Homo sapiens: one gene and its partners. Each later gene encodes a partner of the first gene's protein in a complex. Each region holds a gene or a part of one and is shown on either strand. Other genes may lie near its edges. The genes, in order: SF3B3, HTATSF1 and SF3A2.

Region 1 (3,650 bases):
AAAAGTAATTTTAATGTTTTTTTTTTTTCTTTAAAAAAAAATAGAGATAGGGTCTCGCTGTGTTGCTCAGACTGGTCTTGAACTCCTGGCCTCAAGTGGTCCTCCTACATTGGCCTCCAAAAGTGCTGGTGGGAATGCAGGCATGAACCACCGTGCCTGGCCAGTTTTAATGTTTTATTAACTCTGTATATCTGAAATCATTCTAACATGTAGTTAATATAAAAATTGCTGAGCTATTTCACCTTTTTTTCTCTCTTTTTTAAACCAAGTCTGAAATCTGGTATTGGCACTTTACACTTAGCAGTCTTAGTTCTCTTTAAAATTTTATTTGTCTTTATTTAAAAAAAATTTCTTCCTTGACACAGAGTCTTGCTCTGTTGCCCAGGCTGGAGTGCAGTGGTGTGATCTCAGCTCACTGCAGCCTCTGCCTCCTGGGTTCAAGCGATTCTCATGCCTCAGCCTCCTGAGTAGCTGGGTTTATGGTGTGCACCACTACGCCCGGCTAATTTTTCTTGTTTCTAGTAGAGATGGGGTTTTGCCATGTTGCTCAGGCTGGTCTTGAACTCCTGAGCTCAAGCGATCCACCCGCCTTGGCCTCCCAAAGGGCTGGGATTACAGGTGTGAGACACCATGCCTGGTCCTGTCTCAGTTCTGACTAGCCACATGTGGCTTGGGGTAGCTATAGTATCGGATATTGCAGAAGAAGAAGTTGGTTAGATTCAGATTTAATTATTGGGGGAGGGGGACAGGAATACTTAATAGGTGGTGCTGTTTACTCCTGTTGCATCACGTCAGGAGGAGTGTAGTGTCTGGTTGTCCCACTCACAGTGATGTTGGGATGTTTGTCTGTATCTGTGTTAAAGTTCCCGTCAACCCTTTACTTACAGCTATTACACACATTGCCTAGGTTCATTCTTTCATTAGTGGTTGGAAAATGATTTATTTCTTTTTGGATTTAATTAGTTGGAATTCTAAAGACAAAATTCGCATCATTTCTTTGCTTACTATAAGTACGGTTCATACAGGAAAAGGATAAATAATTTTTTTCCCATTGTTCACCTGTTTTCAGAGTAAGGAGTGAGGGCCACAGCACTCCTTTCAGTGGGGCCCAGTAAAGTGGGTTTTTTGCTGTTTTTTAGAGTAACATTGGTCAGGTGCTGTGGCTCACACCTGTAATCCCAGCGCTTTGCGAGGCTGAGGTGGGTGGATTGCTTGAGCTCAGGAGTTCGAGACTAGCCTGGGCAACATGGCGAAACCTCATTTCCACCAAAAATACAAAAAATAGTTGGGAATGGTGGCTCATGCCTGTAGTCCCAGCTACTTGGGAAGCTGAAGTGGGAGGATTGCTTGAGCCTGGGAGGTGGAGGCTGCAGTGAGCCAAGATTGTGGCACTGTACTCCAGCCTGGGTGACAGAGTGAGAACCTGTCTCAATAAATAAATAAATAAAAATTTAAAAAAATAGAGTAACATCATAAACTTGTGGATTTTTATACATTTGTGCTGAAAACTCCTTTTTTTTTTTTTAAACAGAGACAGAGTCTCGCTATGTTGGCCAGGTTGGTCTTTAGCTCTTGGCCTCAAGCAGTCGTCCTTCCTTGGCTTCCACAGTGCTGTGATTACAGATGTGAGCCACCTCACCTGGCTTCTTTTTTTTTGAGGGGTGCGGGGGGGTGGTAAATTGACTCATTCTAGAAAAGTGGGAATTTCTATTTGAAGTTAGTTCTTTTGTCCTTTTAACATGACCCCACTATTTGTAGGGGTTTCCTTGCCTTGTTGCACAATAAAGTATCCCCACATGTGTCTGGAACATTCTTGCCCCTGCCCCAAACTAGTCATTCCTTTTAGGAACCTTGTTCCTTTAAGAGGAAATGCTGTTTAGGGACCATGGTCTTTGTGGTTATTTAATTATTTATTTGAAATATACAGTAGTGAAGAAGGATTTAATATACTTGGTAAAAAGAAATATTAAGAAGATATAGTGAAAAATAAGTGTGTATTTACTTAGTAGATGCTCCATAACTTTGGATGATTAAGTGATTTACTGAGAGAATGAAATGAATGGCTATCGGATTATTAGGATCTTTTTTAAACACCCAAGTCATTTCTTTCTATCTGCTCTAATTTCTTATGTGAAGTACCCAAGGGAGAGGTTTTCCCATCATAGCTGATAAGCTTCCATCAGGCTTCACCTGCTCCTCTCCTTTTGATTAGAACGGTGTGCTGCTGAGGACTGTCTTGGACCCTGTCACTGGGGATTTGTCTGATACTCGCACTCGGTACCTGGGGTCCCGTCCTGTGAAGCTCTTCCGAGTCCGAATGCAAGGCCAGGAGGCAGTAAGTAATGAAGGTTGGGGACAGGCAACATCTTTGGGATTTTAGTGGCACCATCTGAGAACAATCTTTGCTGTAAGCTTCACTGTCACTAATTTGCCACTCCATCTTGATTGGTTTCCTTCATGTGAGAAGTCCTGAGTTTTCCTAACCTAGAGCTTCCTCACTGGGGCTCCATCGCACCATGTCATGATTTGGTTATAGCTGGGTAGAGATATCGATCCCTTTAGCCCTCTGGCTGGTCAAATAGGGCTGGAAACCTCCCCTCTAGGACACCACTAGCCATGAGAATTCTCAGGTTTTATCCCAGTCTTAGATCAGTGTCACGTTTACTACCTAATGTGAAAGAGACTGGGAAACATTGTGTCCTTTGTAGTTAAGAATGTTAGTGTTTCTGGGCACTGTGCTAATTGATTCCATTTAATTCTGTTTTTTGTTGTTTTTTTTTTTGAGATGGAGTCTCACTCTGTCGCCCAGGCTGGAATGTAGTGGTGCAAGCTTGGCTCACTGCAACCTCCGCCTCCTGGGTTCAACCAATTGTCTTTCCTCAGCCTCCCGATTAGCTGGGATTACAGGCGCATGCCACCACGCCCAGCTAATTTTTGTATTTTTAGTAGAGATGAGGTTTCACTATGTTGGCCAGGTTGGCCTCGAACTCCTGACTTCAGGTGATCCGCCTGCCGTGGCCTCCCAAAGTGCTGGGATTACAGGCATGAGCCACCGCACCTGGCCTTCATTCCATTTAATTCTTGCAGCTGTCCAGCCTTGTGGTACTGTTTTCATTTTACACACGTGGAAGCAGGCTTAGAGAGATGAAATGGTGAGTCTAGATCATATGGCTCGTAGCCCATGCTTTTCACATATGCTAAGCCATAGTGCCTCTCTCTAGCCCTCTTTTTCTTAAGATAGCCTGTTATATTTCTAGAATATCTTAGGATACTCTGCAGACTGAAATTTGGGGATAGGGCTTTTGGTCAGCTTATACCATATTTGTATTTTTTCCCAAACCTTATTGGAGCTGGGTTTTTTTTTTCCCCTCAGGTATTGGCCATGTCAAGCCGCTCATGGTTGAGCTATTCTTACCAATCTCGCTTCCATCTCACCCCACTGTCTTACGAGACACTGGAATTTGCATCGGGTTTTGCCTCGGAACAGTGTCCCGAGGGCATTGTGGCCATCTCCACCAACACCCTACGGTGAGTGAGTCTCATGTTTGAAGCTCAGCAGGAAGCCTTTCTGCCAAGGGCTCAGACTGGTTCTGCCAGAGTGTTGGAGGAGGCTGTGAAGAGGTGGCAGAGAGCCGACTTCACCATGAAGC
Region 2 (3,650 bases), on another chromosome or scaffold:
AGACGTGCACCACCACGCCTGGCTGATTTTTGTATTTTTAGTAGAGATGGGGTTTCACCATGTTGGCCAGGCTGGTCTTGAACTCCTGGCCTCAAGTGATCCGCCCGCCTCGGCCTCCCAAAGTGCTGGGATTATAGGTATGAGCCACCGCACACGGCCCCCTGCCCATTATTTTTATTTCAGAAAGTTTTCTGACTGGAACTATGACTGAAATACAGTTTGTTGTTGTAAAATCCAGTAATTATCTTTATTAAATACTCAGTAAAGTATTGTATGAACAACTCATTCTTTTCTCTCTCCAACAAGTCTGAAGCAAAATTTACAGTTTGTTGTTACTGCTTCATTGCCTCAGGCAGTTGGATTGGAGACCTGAGAGGCGAGCCGGACCATCCCGGATGCGCCATGAGCGAGTTGTCATCATCAAGAATATGTTTCATCCTATGGATTTTGAGGTAGGAAGTGGTGTGCTTACTGATAGAAATGCTGATAGGCTTTTTTTCTCTCAAGGGAGCCTGGAGCTTGCCTCGCCTCATCTTTGTCTTGTCACCTCCTACGTGTTTGTGCAGCGAGTAGTAAAGGAAGATGGAGCCAAGAAGCTACTTAAGTCTTTTGATTTCCCTTCCCTTTGTTTAGCCCAGTATTGTTTTAAAGTGTATCACAGATAAGACTGTTTAATAACCATACTGCGCCCCAAGCAGCAGCTACTTGGTATGGGAAACCATTGAAAAATATCATCATCAAAAGATTTATGGGAACTGCTTGTGGATTTTCAGTGCAAGCCAACAAGTATGGCCTGATTTTGGTGGGGAGTACCAGCTTCACAATTGTAAATGCAAACTTCAGTTTGGTACTAAAAGTTATAATATTTAATGTCCGTGGAAAATTCCAAGAACAGCAAGTAAAAGTGAATAAGTACATCTGTTATGTATCAACTTTTTTAAGTGATTTTAAAAAAAGTTAATGGAACTGTCCTTCCTCCCCTCAAAAAAGTGAATAAAGGAGAAGCAAAGAACAAGGAGTTCTGAGGAATATTGTCATCAAAGTACCTTGTGTTACATTCTGCCTGTATTCTTATCTCTGTCTACTGGTGTAGACTGACTTTATTGTTGTGGAGAAACAACTCTTTATTCTCTCCCTGGTTCTGAAATTAGTGATAGCAAGTTATACAGAAAGCAGGTTATACAGATAGCAAGTTATACAGAGAAAAATGTTCATAACGTAAAATTCCGTTTTTACCAATAATCTAGTTGTAAATTAGTGCCCATTCCTGACCCTTTTGTGCATTTAAACAGTCAAAATGGTAATATAATTGTAGCTCCCTTAGAGAGGGCCCCAAAATGGACAGTTCAGCTCTATCTCAATGAATAGTGTTGTGATAAGGTTTACTGTGTACCTATGGAGTTTGGGCATCTTTTGAGGTCATTGGAAATATACGTCTGGTTTATTTATGAGATTGATTGATATCTCTTCTGACTAGAAATCTGGAAGAATTTTGAAATATAACAGTTTACAGTTTTACAGTTGCAGTGATAATGAAGTATGGTTTATAAACACGTGCACACCAGATGCATTTTGAAATACTGTTTTTGCCAGCAATAACTTTAAAATGAATGCATAGAATTACAAAAATATTAGCTGGGCATGGTGGCGCATACCTGTAATCCCAGCTACTCAGGAGGCTGATTCAGGAGAATCACCTGAACCCGGTAGGCAGAGGTTATGGTAAGATCGCGCCACTGCACTCCAGCCTGGGCAACGGAGCGAGACTCCATCTCAAAACAAAACAAAATAAAACAAAACAAAGAACCAGATCATAGTCATTAAAGCAGCATATAAAATAAATGCACAGATTGATCACAATATTTAGTCTGCTAAATACAACTCCGGGATTTCCTATTATTTATTACATTTTATCCCCCTGCTAAATAAGTGATTTATTAGGTGACATATTTATTTCTGTGACTCGAGGTCTTTGATTCACACATTTCATACTCCTGCCACCCAAGTGTGAATGTAAATGCAAACCTAATTCAAACTATCTGGAACCTCTGCAAGTAGAAGTCTGTTGTGTAATTTTAATCTATTCTTGTTTCTACCTCCTGCCTTGCTCATTGAAATACCTTATTTGAGTCTAAGGATCACCCCAGGCAGACTTAGCTCTTCCCAGCTTAACAAATATTCTTTCCCCAAAACCACATTTATTCTACCTTGACCCCTATACATTCCCTCCAGTGAATATTTTTAAAGATAGAAGTTTCATGCTTGCAAATTCCTGATTTTTTTTTTAATCTTCTTGGTTTAGTATAAACATTACTTTGGAGTTACAGAGCCTTTATACTACCCTATTTTGTTTCCTTCATAGCATTTATTATTATCTGAAGTAATTTTGACTCGTCTACTAGAATGTGAGCTCCATGACACCCAGTATTTTGTCTACCTTGTTTGCTGCTGTATTCTCAGTACATAGAATTTGCCTGGCACACAGTTGGCCCTTAATATTTATGTGATGAAGAATTGAAAGAATTGCTAAATGAAACCCTTGTTATTTACAAGCCAGAGTCTTTTCATTCAGCCAGTGGATAAAACATTTTCTCTTCAGCATCTTTGCAAATGAAAGCAAATTTTCTTCTTAGATGCTTATTCCACAAAGGATGGTGGGACATTGTCTTGGCCGTGGCGGAATTAGTTCACAAAGAAATGCTTGGTGATGCTATCCTTGTTTGCCCACCTTCCTGGCCTCACATGGTCCAACTAGCTTGCTGAGAGCGTGTCAACAAGAAGAGTGACAAATAATCTTGCTTTTGTTCACTGTCTCTGAGCACCTGAACCTCAGTGTAGACCTGTGCTGTCAGATATGGTAGACTGTAGCCATGTGTGGTTAAATGTAAGTTAATTAAAATGAAATAAAATTCAGTTCATCGCTTCTACTAGGCACATGTAGCTAGTAGCTACCATATTGGATAATGCAGATATACAACATTTTCATTATCACAGAACCTTCTATTGGACAACACTGGTATAGACATTATATAACTTTTGATAGAAGTGTCCAACAGGAAAACCTGCTTTTATTGCATGTTTTGGGGGAGTGTTTGATTTGACTCAAGACTCCATATGAACCTAAAGAACACACAGCAGCATTGAGCTTTTTAGTGGAAAACAAAAACTGAATTGTCAGGTTATCCTGAGATATCTGAAAGGAGTCAGATTTTGGGTGGAGGGGTATATTTTGATTCCAAACAGTTAGAAGCAACATACCTAAGAATACTGTCTGATCTGAAGGCTAACATTTTTAATGTAACTTCAGAGGGTCTTCAGTATTTAATTCAAATCCTTACTTTAAAATGCATTGCCTGGCAAATTTGAATACCAGGACATGAAGAGTCAAAACTCAAATGCATTAGCCGGGCATGATAGCACGCACCTGTAATCCCAGCTACTTGGAAGGCTGAGGCACGAGGATCACTTGAATCCGGGAGGCAGAGGCTGCAGTGAGCCAAGATCGCGCCACTGCACTCCAGCCTGGGCAACAGAGTAAGACTCTGTCTTCAAAAAAAAAAAAGAAAGAAAGCAAAGCACTGAGACATTGGTGTAGAAATGGAGGTGATGCCTACCCCCACCATGGAATCACGCTTCAATTTAAAAGTTGT
Region 3 (3,650 bases), on another chromosome or scaffold:
AGGAGGCCACGCCCCCGCTCCCGGTCTTGCCCCCGGGGCGATGCTGGAAGTCCATGGTGATGGCCTTAGGGCTTTAGCAGACTGGGAGACACCTGTGGAGGCCAAGAGGAGAGTGAGGAAGATGGCTCAGAACTCGGGGCTGCTGCTGGGACCTCCCTGGGCGGGCTGGGCTGGAGCCCTCGAGACTGCCCCTCACCCTGCACTCCCAGCGCCAGGGTCTAACCAGCCCTGAGGGGGCCACCCCATAGCGCACCCAGTCTCTTCCAGGAGGCTGAGGCCCACTGTGGACAGGCACAGACACAAGGAAGCTGGAGCCTGTCTCCAAGTGACCAGGCATGAGGGATGGAGAGGAAGCCGCTCCAGCCCAGGGTGCCAAGGCCTGGAGACCTGAAATTGTAATAGGGAGCCCAGAGAAGGCATAAAGGGAAGACAAGACCAAGATCTCACAAACGAGTCACCACCTCCAGGAAGCCATCCCGGACTGCCCAAGCCCCTAGTGTTCACGCCTTCCTCTGAATTCCCTCTCTGGTTGGCTACGCTTACTTGTCCCAACCTAATCTCTTGGGCTCGATGTAAATTTGTTAGGCGGAGATCAGTGAGGACACTGATCTTCGCATCCTCACTGAGTAACACCTGGGAGATCTGCCACATCTGCTTGTGGCGCAGGGGGCTCTGCTGAGTCCCCAACATCCTCTTCCTGATGCAGGCCTCTGCCAAGGTCTCCCACGCCCTTTCAGGCTCTGTGCAAATCTGAGTTCCAGGCAGCCTCCTCTCATCTCCTGGTAGTCTTTCCCTTGCCTGCTCAATGTTGGCCCCGGGCCCTGGTTTAAGGGTCTTGGGTGAGCTCAGAGAGATGGGGCCCATGAGACTGAGTGAATCACTGCCCCCAAAAGATGTCCACATCCTAATCCCTGGGACCTGTGAACATGTCCCCTCATGGCAGAAAAGGGATGTGCAGGTGGGCTTGAGGATCTTAAAATGGCAGGTGATCCTGGGTGACCTCATGAGAGGAGGCGGGAGGCTGAGAGTCAGAGAGGCTGCGCTGTGGCTGTGAATGGGGAGGAAGGGGCCCCGAGGCAAGGCACACAGGTGCCTCTGGACACTGGGAAAGGCAGGAAACGAGTTGTCCCCCAGAGCCTCCAGAAGGAATGGAGCCCTGTGGACTGTTTGGACTCTGACCCCAGAACCAGAAGCTGATACAGCCGTGTCATCTGAACTACTGCGTCTGCAGTGATGTGTCACAGTGTCTGCAGGTGTGCAGGGGCACGCTGAGGGACAGGGCACAGTGGCCGCAGGTGTGCAGGGGCACGCTGAGGGACAGGCCACAGTGGCGGCAGGTGTGCAGGGGCACGCTGAGGGACAGGCCACAGTGGCCGCAGGTGTGCAGGGGCATGCTGAGGGACAGGCCAGCTGTACTGCTGACTTGTGGTGGGGCCTGAAGTCACCCCTTACTCTATGGGGGCCCAGGAGCCCTCCCCAACCAGTTTTTATTCCCTGGGCAAGTTTATGAAAATGATCAAGCATGGTAACTGGTGAGGTGGACCTCCCAGCTCACTGCAGTATCACGGCTGCCCCATCAGAAGTTCAGATGTCACAAAAGCCCACCTAGAGATGCCCATTTTTACATGTTGTCACGTAAACTTCGAGAAACCACCACTGTGACCATCGCCATCCCTTCACAAAACAAAGAACATTCCAGTGTGAAAAAGGAGACTGTGACACCAGAAGGACTGTCCTTTGCTGGGAACGCCACCCTCTGGCCCCAAGGAACCCTCCCCGCCTCGGGCTTCTTGGCCACACATTCTTCAGGACCAGGGAGAACTGCACCCTCTCCATGCTGGCGCCGTCAGCTGCAGGCCACGCCAACTCCTACAGTCCCTGCTGCCACAACAGCTTACAGCTGCCTGGGAGGTTCTGTCTCCGGACGGCCCACAGGCGGGCAGGATTGTGTGGGTGCCGCCCGGACAGGTTCATGAAGTGCCTCATTTTTCTCTGGAGGACATTCAAGCATTTCCTGGTCAAGTGACATGAAACTCACATCAGGGGACGTGCGTGGGGAGCCCAGCAAGCAGCCTCCCACCAGGCCGCAGCCGCACTTGCCTCTCCACACATCACAGAAACCACAGTCCTCCACGCATCTCAGCACCGAACCAAGCCCTCGCTCGGGGGAACGTGTGAGAAGGCAGGGAATCGGCCTTCTTTCACGGATGCACTCCAAGAACCCAGGAGGGGCCTGGTGCTGAGAGGCACTCCCACACACAGATCTCGGGGCGTCATCAAGCGCTCCCCTCTCCCGGGAGGACGACCTGCTCCTTTCGTCATGAAGGAATTCAACAGCATGCGAACGCCCTGCTTGTCCCTGTCGTGGCCTCTCCTGGACCACGCCCCTACTCTGAGGCTAAGCTCTGCAGAGCCATCACTGGTCTCTACCCCCAAGCCTGCACTCTCCACAGCGCCCACCCATGCGTCCTCATGGCCGGCAGCTTCTGGCAGAGAGAAGAGCAGTGGGTGGGACGTGTCTGCGGAGGACCCAGGGCCCAGGAGGAGCGGAGCTCAGCCTCAGGAGCGACCTGCGCTTTGCTCCTCCATGCGGAAGAGGCAGCACAGCTTCTGGGGCCAGGACAGGTGCAGATGGCCACACCAAGAGCCACCAATCTATCTTGATGCACTTATTTCCGGGCACATTTTAGTGACATTTCCAGAACGTTCTAATGACACGATGGCTGGGAGGACTTGGAGAAGGAACTTAGATGGCAAAATGCTAACAAAGCCAAGAGTTCAAATCCATCTAGGGCAAGCCAAGTTACTTCTTAAAACTGGCCAGACAGAACGCCCCAGCGGCCAGTGGCTGGCTCAGGACACAAGCTCCAGCTGTCACAGGGAGCACCTGTGGAGTCTGGCCCACTGAAACCTAAACCCAGACCAATACTCAACCACTCACCAAGTAAAGCTCTGATCCGAAAACCAGAAACCATCCGAACCCAAGCCATCGCAGCCACCGAACACCCACACTGTCCCTCCTCAGCAGCTGAAATGGGGCGGCACCCCGGGGAAGGTCCCACGCTCGGATCGCCCACAACCCTCGAGGAGATCAGAACTTTATTCCCAGAAGAACTGGTATAAAAGGGCCTCTAGAGTTAGAGAGACAGGCCCAGCAGAGCAAGGGGGTCCAGGGTCAGGCTGAAAAGGGGGGACTGAATCACGACCTGCCGCCTGGGCAGCGGGAAGTCTGGCGGTTCCTCCGCACAGCTCAGGTGGCAGGCGGCCCAGCACGGACGCCCCCCACCCCGGGGGAGGCCAGGAGTCTTTTCCGGGGAAACAGCGCCAGAGGAAGAGTTCTCAAATACTGACATTCAGGGTCCCCACACCTCAAAGAAAAGGCCCGCTCCTTGCCAGGCCACTGGGCAGTTGACCTCCCTGGATGAGAAGTGGCGCTCACACAGAGCTGCCGGCCGCTTTGTTCTTAAAGAGAAACACACGCATCCGAGAACAAAGAGACTGATGGGTATCCCAGTAAGAGATCGCTGACACCCTCCTTCATTATCGGGGGAAGCCACTGCACCACAAACCCAGAACAGGAAGCTGAATGACAAGCTGAATTAAAACAAAAAGCCCTTGAAAAATACAGACAGGACGATCCAAACAAAAAA

The links.
Region 2: SF3B3 (region 1) and HTATSF1 share a complex: the UniProt entries of both Homo sapiens proteins name them as parts of the 17S U2 SnRNP complex.
Region 3: SF3B3 (region 1) and SF3A2 share a complex: the UniProt entries of both Homo sapiens proteins name them as parts of the 17S U2 SnRNP complex.

Annotation. Positions count from the first base shown.
Region 1 is NC_000016.10:70,558,257-70,561,906, forward strand, and holds part of SF3B3 (splicing factor 3B subunit 3), read left to right. Parts: intron 1-2,212; coding exon 2,213-2,335; intron 2,336-3,373; coding exon 3,374-3,528; intron 3,529-3,650. UniProt on the Homo sapiens protein: Component of the 17S U2 SnRNP complex of the spliceosome, a large ribonucleoprotein complex that removes introns from transcribed pre-mRNAs.
Region 2 is NC_000023.11:136,504,012-136,507,661, forward strand, and holds part of HTATSF1 (17S U2 SnRNP complex component HTATSF1), read left to right. Parts: intron 1-352; coding exon 353-452; intron 453-3,650. UniProt on the Homo sapiens protein: Component of the 17S U2 SnRNP complex of the spliceosome, a large ribonucleoprotein complex that removes introns from transcribed pre-mRNAs.
Region 3 is NC_000019.10:2,239,824-2,243,473, reverse strand, and holds part of SF3A2 (splicing factor 3A subunit 2), read right to left. Parts: intron 93-3,650; 5' UTR 56-92; coding exon 1-55. UniProt on the Homo sapiens protein: Component of the 17S U2 SnRNP complex of the spliceosome, a large ribonucleoprotein complex that removes introns from transcribed pre-mRNAs.